Regions from separate parts of the Homo sapiens genome. Here region 1 is linked to region 2. Evidence: fine-mapped QTL for protein levels in blood plasma. A gene starts in region 2. The other region holds a variant in brackets. All regions are shown on one strand. Distances are from middle to middle.

Region 1 (5,380 bases), 19 kb after region 2:
TTAACCCTCATTTTGATGTCATTAGGATTCTGATATGTAGCAAAGGCATTGCTTATCAAGATGAATAAAAATTAAGTACTCATTCTCTAGTTTGTCCTAGAAATATCATGTGCTTTGTCATCCAGTTCAGTCATTTGTATCAATTCTTCTCTTGACATTGATTCCTAGAGATGTTTTATGGAAAATTTGAGTCTCTAGTAAACATTAACCCTCTTCCTATGGCAAAAAAAAGTGCTTGCTGTAAAAATCTAATGCTGCATTCACCTCCATGTCTTGATATTTGTCAGAATGGAGGCAGAGAGAAGCATAGAAAGAACAATGCAAAGCGGTAGATCATCCACAAATGTATATTATATACTATTAAACACTCGATGTGACTTTTTTTGGGATAGTGATATGGTGGAATGTGAGATTTTTGAAAGAGTTCTTTAGTGTGATGTTTAACTTTGATTCTCTTGGGCAAAGCTATAGGGGGAGGTAACCAAGGACAGGCAAAGAAAAGCCAGTTTTGGAATTCAGAATGAAAGTGAATACTCACATATGTTTAATGGGTTCTAAGAAGGATGCAGAATAAATACTAAGACTTAGCCTATTTTGAATAGATTGGGCATGAGATGGTAGTAGCTTATTCCTTCAATGCTAAGAAGTCGAGCATTAGAACATTCCATCACTGGGTATTAGACTTATGGTTTACTTGACTTGATGAATGTTCTTTGTTGGTATGCAGTGCAACTGTTAACTTCTTGGGATTATGGCTTTATATTCTATCTGAAAATAAATAGCCTTGAGTATATAAGATCTTTAAAGGCCTCTAAAGAGATTCTGTTTCTACAGAAAGCAAGCCAGACTCTTCCACAAGCCACCATGAATCACCGCGACATTGCCCGGCATCAGGCTTCATCATCTGTGTTCTCATGGCAGCAAGAGAAGACCCCAAGTCATCTTTCATCTAATTCTCAAAGAACTCCAATTAGGAGAGATTTCTCTGCATCTTACTTTTCTGGGGAACAAGAGGTGACTCCAAGTCGATCAACTTTGCAAATAGGGAAAAGAGATGCTAATAGCAGTTTCTTTGACAATTCTAGCAGTCCTCATCTTTTGGATCAATTAAAAGCGCAGAATCAAGGTAACATTGAGCTAAGTTAAGTTTAAATTCACTTTGCTTGAGGTAATTTCACAGGTGATTTCAGATATTTTTAATCCCATAAAGTGCTTATGTGTTTTGTTAGGCACATCGGTGTTCAACATCCTAGACTGGTTATGTGAAATATACTGTCTTTTCAATAATGATAAAAGGCATCATAGTGTTGGAATGTAGTTTTATTTGTATTGAAAAGCTGGTGCCTGGAAGCCTCTAAAGTACGTTGAGAGGCTTTGATTTATCTTTCCAGATGCAGGGCGAGTGGGTTGGTTACAGTTTACACTCCCCATGCTTCTCATCTGGCTCCTTTTGTGACCCACAGAACCAGGCTGTGGTCTGACCAGCTTTGGCCAGAGGTTGTGTGTGTGTCTGCAGAACAGCTTTGCTGTGCCCTGCCAGGTTGTCCATATGGGAGCAAACCTGTAACCTTGGCTGCTGTGCCACGCTGCAGCTGACAGCCAAGGGTACCAGGTGGTGTTTTGGAATCTACTCTGTAGAAGATGATAATTTCCAGTGCTGTGATATATTGAAAATCACTGTCAGTGTTCACTGGTGAGAGCTGTCACCTAGCCAATGCCATTGGAACCAATGTTGTGCGTATGTGGGAAAAAAGTGGAAAAAAAATCATTGTTAATTTTGGCAGTATGGGAGGTTCACACTGTCTTGATGTTTACTGGAGGTAAAACTACCAGAGAATATAGGAGGGTGAACTTTTCACTGCTTAGCACTGATTTGCATTGATATGGGCAAAAAACAAATATAGTTTGCTGTTGTGTAAAACTAAATGGTAATTTTAACAAAGGGTGTCATATGTGATGTACTTTTCACAGTCTCAATAAGAAGATAGCGTTCCTGATTTTAGAAAAGCATTCCCCCCACCAAGTTTCTTTGTTAAAATGTAAGAAAATCTGTTTCTCCTGCTTTCTATAGAGTATTTGAATGCAAATGACAATAGAAACTAACTATTGAAATTAAATCCAATTAAAGTAGCTTCTGTATTTAGTGTAAATATTTGTTTCGTCAAAGATTTCAGAAAAGAATAAAACAAATGATAAGTTATGAACATTTTGGGAAAGATATATATGAATTGGAGTGTGATTTTTGTTTGTGGTTCAAGAGCTAAGAAACAAGATTAATGAGTTGGAACTACGCCTGCAAGGACATGAAAAAGAAATGAAAGGCCAAGTGAATAAGTTTCAAGAACTCCAACTCCAAC[T/C]GGAGAAAGCAAAAGTGGAATTAATTGAAAAAGAGAAAGTTTTGAACAAATGTAGGGATGAACTAGTGAGAACAACAGCACAATACGACCAGGCGTCAACCAAGGTACTTGACTTTTCGTGAATTACTGGAGAAATCTTCATCTTTTCATACAATTATTTAGAAAGAGTATTTTATACATAAGTTTATGAAATGTCAGTAATGTTCTTTGTTAATATATATTAGGTACTCTTGATGCAACTGAACTAGAAAGCTGTTTTAAGTTGGGCAGATCCGGGATCAAGCCTGGTGCCGTACTTTCCCAGCTGAGTGACGTTGGGCAAGTCACTGATCTCTTTTATGTTGCAGGGGGTAATAGAGAATAAAGAAAATGTATATATAGCATCTAGCATGATGTGTGCCACATTAAAATAGGCACTTAATGGCACTTTAAAGGAGTTTTAGGACATTTGATAGGATTTAATTAATCTGCTCTTGGGATCGTATATATAGTTGGTCCATTGTACCCATGAGTTCTGCATTCATGGATTCAACCAACTATGGATCGTAAGTATTTAGGGGGAAAAAAGATCGTATATATAGTTGGTCCATTGTACCCATGAGTTCTGCATTCATGGATTCAACCAACTATGGATCGTAAGTATTTAGGGGGAAAAAAGATCGTATATATAGTTGGTCCATTGTACCCATGAGTTCTGCATTCATGGATTCAACCAACTATGGATCGTAAGTATTTAGGGGGAAAAAGAAAAAGGCCGGGCACCTGTGGTTTACACCCGAATCCCCACACTTTGGGAGGTTGAGACACGCGGATCACTTGAGGCTAGGAGATCAAGACCAGCTAGCCCACATGACAAAACCTTGTCTCTACTACAGGTACAAAAATTAGCCAGGTGTGGTGGTGCACACCTGTAATCCCAGCTACTCGGGAGTCTGAGGCACAAGAATTGTTTAAACCTGGAAGGCAAAGGTTGCAGTGAGCAGAGATTGTGCCACTGCACTCCAGCTTGGGTGACAGGGTGAGATTCTGTCTCAAAGAATGGCTTTGTCTGTACTGATCATATACAGACCTTTTTTTCCTTGTCATTATTTCCTAAACAAATACATTATTACAAATATTTTACATAGCATATACATAGTATTAGGTATTATAAGTAATCTAGAGATGATTTAAAGTGTGTGGGAGGATGTGCATAGGTTATGTGCAAACACTATACCATTTTATATCAGGGACTTGATCATCCTCAGATTTTGGTATCTGCAAGGAGTCCTGGAACCAGTCCTTCATGGATACTGAGGGATGACTGTACACCCACCACTGAATCTTCTTAAGACTCCAACGGAGGCCAAGCTTCTTAGCCTGTTATTTTGTTGTTGTTGTTGTTGTTCTTGTTGTTGCTTTGGTCCCAGCCTACCTCTCTAGCCAGGCTTTTCTTCTCTTTTTTCTATTACTCATTCATTTACTGACTCATTTCACAAGCATGTATTGATATTTGTGCCTGCTATATATTAGGCACTGTTCCAGACCTGGGGCTGGAACAGTGATAAATAGACAAAAATCTCCAGACCTGGGGCTGGAACAGTGATAAACCAACAAAAATCATTGCTTTGTGGAGCTTCATCTTAATAGAGGGAGGCAGAAAATAACAAAAATAAAGTAACATAGATAGTATGGTATATGGTAATAAGTATTGTAGAGAAAAATGAATTATTTGACTTTTAATAAACTCTTTAGATATTTCTGAGGCTTTAGGTAAAAACCATTGTAGTAGACATACTTCTATTATTTGCTTTCTTGGGGCAGGTTCTTTCATTTGTTTACTTAAAACTTTTATTTTAAGATAATCGTAGATTCATATGCAGTTGTACAAAATAATAGCTTGTTAATGTGGTGGGTTGCACTGATTGATTTTCACACATTTGAATGAGCCTTGCATATTTGGAATAAACCCTAATTTCTTACAGTGTATAATTTAAAAAATATATTTCTGAATTTTTTTTTGCTAATGACTTATTAAGGATTTTTTGTGTCTGTATTCATAAAGGATATTGGTTGGCTTTCTTTTTTTCCCCTGCCATCTTTGTTTGATATTTGTATCAGGGTATCCTAGTTTCACAAATTAGAGAGTATTCCTTCCTCTTCAGTTGTCTGAAAGAGACTGTGTAGAATTTTTTTTTCTTTCTTTATATATTAAGTAGAATTCTCTAGTGAAATCATTTGAATCTGGAGATTTCTTTTCTGGGAGTTTTAAAATTACAAATTCAATTTTTAAAATAGTTATAGAACTATTAAAATTATCCATTTCATATTGGGGGAATTAGGATAGTTTGTATTTTCATCTAAGTTGTCAACTTTATGTATATAGAGTTATTCACTGCATTCTCTTATTCTTTTGATATTTGTAGTGATATTCCTTGTTCATTTCTGATGTTGGTAATTTGTGTCTTCTCTCTATCTCTGTGTCAGTCTTGCTAGAGATTTGTCAGTTTTGTTGATCTTTACTAATCTTTCTAAATAATCAGCCCATTGGTTCATTGATTTTTTTTTTTCTCTGTTTTCAATTTCATTGATTGCTGCTTGCTTTAGGTTTATATTGCTCAAAAAAATGTCATTAGGACCTGTTGGTTGATGATGTTGTTGAGTTTGTTAATATACTTGCTGATTTTCTGTTTAGTTGTTCAATTCATTGTTGAGAGAGAATGTTGGAGTCCCCACCTATAACTGTGATTTGTCTGTTTCTCCTTTGATTTCTTCCAGTTTTTGCTTCACATATTTTGCAGCTCTGTTGGTGAAGGCATATACATTTGGGATTGCTGTGTCTTGGTGGATTGACCCTTTTATCACTATTTAGTGTCCATGGTAATTTTCTTTATTCTGAAGTCTACTTTGTCTGTTATTAATATAGCCACTCCAGCTTTCCTTTGATTGTTAGCATGATGTATTTCTTCCTCTTTACTTTCAACCTATTTTGTTATATTGAGGCGACTTTCGTGTAGACAACATATAATTGGGCCATGTTTTTC
Region 2 (5,380 bases):
TGGTTGTTGCAGCGGATTAGAGAAATCCTGAAACTGGGAGAAAGGGCTGTGGAGCAGCATTGAGGCCCAGCTAGACATCCTACATTTAAAGTATTTGCACAGTGCTGGGATTTTTTTCCAGCCCCATTCTGCAGCAATAGTGCACCAAGGGATGATATGGACATTTGCACACATACAAGTTTGGGAGATAGAACAAGAGGCAAGGGAGTTGAGGACACTGGCAAAAGAGTGATTTCAGTGATGAACCTGCAGTCTAATCTGTAGAAAAGATGGGAAGACTCAAAGACACTGGTCCACAAGCAGAATATCGAGGTAGTGGATGAACAATCCAGAGAGAGTAGACTGGCTAACTGAGGGAAAGGACTTAAAAAGAGAAGAGCAGAGAGCCAAAAATGGACCCTTAGAGAACATCTGTCTTTGGTTGGACGGGATCCTCCCCCTACAAAACAAACAAACCAACCGGGGGAAAAATAAAGGGAGGGGAAGGGAAGCATAAAATTAAAGTCAGAGAAATATCACAGGAGTTACTAGAATGGTATCCATCCTATTTCCCTTGTTCAAGAAATGAATGTATTTCTTTATTGTTCATTGTAGAAAAACGAAGCACAAGGCTTGACTATACAGTGGCCACTCAATAGATATCTGCTGAAGAACGAATGAATGAATAGTAAATGCAAATTTCTTATTCAAACCTTAAAAATATCCTCTATTATCTGTCTTTCTAGCTGTTTATTTTTCCTTAAACAGCCTATACATAGTTGAATAATTACTCTGGGAAGCAATGGAATTGTAATTTGTGTTGAAGCCAGACACAATTTGGTTCAAATTCTAAAACTACCAGACACTAGACTGATCATGGCAATGTCTGACAAAAGTTTTCCTCCCCTACCTGCTCTCTCCCCTCCCTTTGGGGATTCGAAGGTAGAAGATAGTAAGAACAAGGCCTTTCCCCAAATAGCAGTTTTATCTCCCAAGATGATCTGGATTTTAAATTACTATGTGCAAAGTTACTAGGGATGCAAAAATGAATTAAAACAGATTTTACTGTAAAGGAATTTTTGAGTCTGATGGGGGAGTCAGACGTAGACATAAATACAAGACAAGACACGGCGAAAATCCTAAACATGAAGTTTGCAAGTTCCAGGAAAGGTCTAGGAAATAATTATCTCTAAGGAGTGGGTGGGATTAGGGAGGTTTTATAAAAAAAGTGACACTTGAATTGGGTACTGCAGGAACAGTCTAATGAAAGGTAAAGTCAGGGGGCTGGAAAGTTTGGTACCTATTGAGGCAGACAACAGCATTAGAGATCTATTACTTTAACAATTAATTGTTTTGCTTCTGCCTTTAGAAGCTTATTTATAGTTTAATAGGGAAATAAAACGAGTATATAACATACATAGAAAACTAGTGGGCTTCACGAAAAGCATTACACCCCGTTTTGAGGATTCTTCTGAATTTTAAATTCTGATGCAGTGTCCTCCCCCCACGCCTTAATCCCGGAAAATAAGTGTTCAGAATCACGTCTTAGAAATATGAACCATAAAGGACAGCATTTAAGAGCGACATCCTGCATTGCGTAGATTCAATTTCAAATTACTGTACTTAGCTTCTATGAGCCTGTTAACTTTTTAATAAAATGAGGATAATACTTTCCTCAAAGAATTGTTAAGAACGACACCGGATAAAGAATGCATGACAAACACAGCACCTAGTATCTATGTCCTAAATTTACGTTTAATTAAGTAGATTGGTACGTGCAGTTTAAAAGAGGTTTCACCAGGCAGCACAGTTCCCCTGGCTGTAGGCGATAGACCACGCCTTCCTAATCAGCGGGCGCATTCCCTGACTTTTGCGGAAATAGCGGTCCAAAACCGCGTCTAGCATTAGCAAAAGCACGTGGTCTCCGTCTCCCCGCAACAACAAAAAAGAACAGTAAACTCCGGCGCAGGCACCTCCAGTAGAGGGCTTGTTTTTAAAATCCATCCGAAAGGGCCAATCAGACGCGGCAGTCTGAGTGCGCAGGCGCGGATTGGTCCGCAGCTACTTAGAGTGACCAATAGGCGTGGAGGTAAGTTTGGTTGAGACCAGAAGCGGGCGAATTGGGCACCGGTGGCGGCTGCGGGCAGTTTGAATTAGACTCTGGGCTCCAGCCCGCCGAAGCCGCGCCAGAACTGTACTCTCCGAGAGGTCGTTTTCCCGTCCCCGAGAGCAAGGTGAGCGTCCTGACTGGGTCCGGATCCTGGCCCTGGCGGCGGGCGGTAGGCGGCGGGCGGCGTGGGGGTGCCGCTGGCTTTTTGCCGGCGGGTACTGGGCGGGGAGGCCTCTGGGATCACTCTCCCGGCCCTGTAGGTGCCGGGGACCGCCCCCTCCCACCCGACCGAACTGGAGAATCCGCCCCGGGATGTGGTTCGTAGGGGTGTCTGCGCCCTTCTGCTCGGGTTCAAACTGGTCTCGGATTAGTGTCCCAGACCCTACTCGGTCACGGACTCACACTTTAGGGGATCATTTTCTTCCTCCGTAAAAGAATTGGAGATGACTAGGTATTTCCAAGCCGCCTTCCCAGTCCCGTAACCAACCTTATTGAAATTCAGGCCCTGGTCCTTTGTTTTATTGAGTAGATGTAAGCTTGAGTTTTGATCTGGTTGGCGACGTGGGGTGCCTATGGTTAGTTACGCGAGCATTTCTCTTTCCCCTCTCTTCTTCCTCCCGTCCACATTTTTTTTTTTCTTTTTTTAAATAGAGATAGGCCTCCCTATATTGCCTAGGCTGGTCTGGAACCCCTGGGCTCAAGGGATCCTCCCGCCTTGGCCTCTGTAAGTGCCAGGATTACAAGCATGAGCCACTACGCCCGGTCCTCCCTTCCACATTTATTTGAACGCGCCTGTGTGCCCGGCTCGGCTGTGTAATGAGGACCCAGAAATAAAAGGCATGGGTCGTGTCCTTGAGCCTGACCTAGAGGAGAAGGCAGGGTTATCATTCTCAGACCCAGCCTTGGTACAGTGCACGGGGACTCTGGCTTTTTGGAGGAGGTGGGGAATTCTGACAACGGGAAAGCAGTGGTGGAGGTGGGGCAGGAGGAGGTCACACAAGAGCTTCCTTGGGGACTAAGGGACTGGGTAGTTCGGGCATGAAGAGTGCCCTCCACGTATTTAAGAGATAAAGATACAGCATTTTCTGGAAAGGACAATAGTCCTGCAAGTCCTCCATGCAGGAACCTTCATCCAGGGCTTTTCTTCACTCCCCACCTCGATTCCCTGTTCCTCAAAAGTAAACTTCTGGGTTTATTTTTTTGTTCTTTTGCCCCAATGGCCCAATACAGGTGGCTGATAGCTGATCCCTTAATGGGCCAAAATCTGCTCTAATCACAGTTAGCTTGGTCTACATCTATATTGTTCTCTATCTTAGACTTTGGAATGGAAAAGCATTCAGCTTGCCAGTCTTCTTTATGTTTATTCCCCTCATTTTCTAATCATCTTTCTAAATTGCTCCTTTTTATATTCTGTTGGCTATAGCATCTTGATGTAATGATTTCAGTTGCTGGCTGAATTGTTTAGGGCAATTACAGTTGTGTGTCTCTGGGTACAGTTCTTTGACTCCTGACAAACTAGATTGGAATGGAGGATATTGAGACAGGGTCAGTTGTCCTTTGTTGGTTGAGAGGCATGTGACTCCTTTCAGTAGTTTTGGGATAAATGGGAGTGGAATACAAGATGCTGTGTTCCAAGAACTGAGAGCTAGAAAAAAAAACAAAACTGGTAGCAAAACACAGCTTTCCAGGGCTTTGATATCCAACTTATATGTTGTCTAAGACCTTTGCTTCTCCCTCTTAATTTTTTTTATTGTTCTTAGTACTTTCATGAACTGCTTATTGTTTTGATAAAAAGTTTCATTGATAAAATCGATTGAAAAAAACCATTAAAATGGCCGTTAACTTTATTTAGTAAAAAAACAAATTCTCAAACTCTTGCCTAAGTAACTGGAAAATGAATGATTTTTCTTTTTGTTTATGTTCTGAAGGCTAAAATAAAGGAAAGTTGCTATATTTTCTTCCAGCTGATTTCTATTTCCTAAGATGTGGCTGAGAAGGAGGTAGGCCACTTCACCCTTTGTACCATAGGCTGAAATATACAAGTGAAAAAGTGTTTTTAAAAAGTATGTAATAGCTAACATATATGGAAAGCTTACCAGGAAAGCTTACTGTTTCTAAGGCCTTAGGAAGTCACCATCATTATTATCCTCATTTTACAAACAAGGGAAACAAGGCATAGAGCAGCTAAATAACTTGCCCAAGGTCATACATCCGTAAGTGCCTGAGCTAGAAGAATCCGCTTTGTTTTTTTTTTTTTTTAAATTTTAAATCTTTAATTTCTGTTTTCACGTATTTTCTTCTTGCTTCCAAAAGGAAAGGAGTGCGTAGCTCTGTTGCCTGTACATCGTCCACAGCCCCTGGGTTGGAGCGGGGTCCCCTGGGCCGCCCGGGGGTCCACATGCAGCCCCTGGGGGGCCGGCGCGGGGTGAGGTCCGGGGGCTGCCTTATTGCTGAGGTCTGGCCGGTTGGTGCCGCCGCTAGGCGAGCTGGCTGGCAGCTCCTGGGAGATGAAGCGACGCAGGCCCTCCAGGTACTGGCTGTAGAGCTCGATGTCGTTGTGCCTGGTGCCCTCCACCCACAGCGGCTCCACCGCCTTGGGGCAGCGCTCGTAGAGCGCCAGCCCGTGCGAGAAGTCGATCACCTCGTCCTCCGTGCCGTGGATGATGAGCACGGGCGACGTGATCTTGGACACCTTCTCGATGTTAGGGAAGGCGTCGAAGCAGTAGGTCTTCTTGGTGTCGGGGAAGGCGACGCGCATGCCCGAGGTGAGCGGCGAATGCAGCACCACCGCGGCACACTCGTAGCGCGAGGCCAGGTCCACGGTGGGCACCGTGCCGATGCTCTGCCCGTACAGGATGATGCTGTCCGGGCTGATGCCGTACCTGGAGGCGCCGGAGCAGGGTCAGCCGCGGCCTCCGACGCGCGCGCACCCTTCCCGCCAGCGGGCGTCCCCGGGCCCAGCTCCGGATGCGACCCTCCAGTCTCCCCACTCAGCCAAGTCAGTGGGTCAGGCCCAGGCTCCACACCAGTCCCGAGGGCCACCCCCAGCCCTCAACACCGCGGCGGTGGGCGAAGCCAGCGGCCCCACCCCGTTCCCTGGCGCTGCCGTTCCCTGGCGTTTCCTAGCTAGGATCTGTAGGGATCCCGCCTACGGAGTGGCCCTGGGGCGGAGGTAGGGGAGGCCCTGGCGCCTCTCCTCCTGATCACCCCTAGGTGCACACTGGGAACTGTGTGCCCCCCACATCCTGAATGCTTCACGCCTTCCTGCCCGGGTTAGAAAGCCGTTCCTGG

Direction of the effects. Alleles are on the strand shown, and positions count from the first base shown. The strength of an association depends on the size of the effect and on how common the allele is.
For the plasma level of the protein whose gene starts at base 2,087 in region 2, allele C in region 1 goes with a lower level than allele T (weak association).

The links. PIP is the posterior inclusion probability: the model's chance that the variant is causal. Protein levels are from antibody-based Olink assays in UK Biobank. Linkage for the fine-mapping came from a reference panel and not from the study's own genotypes, which makes the PIPs less certain.
Region 1: its variant is fine-mapped to the plasma level of the CENPF protein (UK Biobank, PIP above 0.99). The variant lies in the coding sequence of CENPF. If it changes the protein, the assay may bind it differently, which can mimic a change of level.

The regions. Positions count from the first base shown.
Region 1 is chr1:214,619,821-214,625,200 of GRCh38, forward strand. CENPF (centromere protein F) reads left to right here. Exons shown (of 20, transcript NM_016343.4): 6 at 835-1,126; 7 at 2,259-2,461. Among named protein-coding and RNA genes, the nearest start is that of CENPF, 19 kb to the left of the region's middle. The variant T/C (reference allele first, on the strand shown) is at 2,358.
Region 2 is chr1:214,601,109-214,606,488 of GRCh38, forward strand. CENPF (centromere protein F) reads left to right here and starts at 2,087. Exons shown (of 20, transcript NM_016343.4): 1 at 2,087-2,213. It also overlaps the pseudogene ABHD17AP3. RefSeq lists a silencer at 1,981-2,190.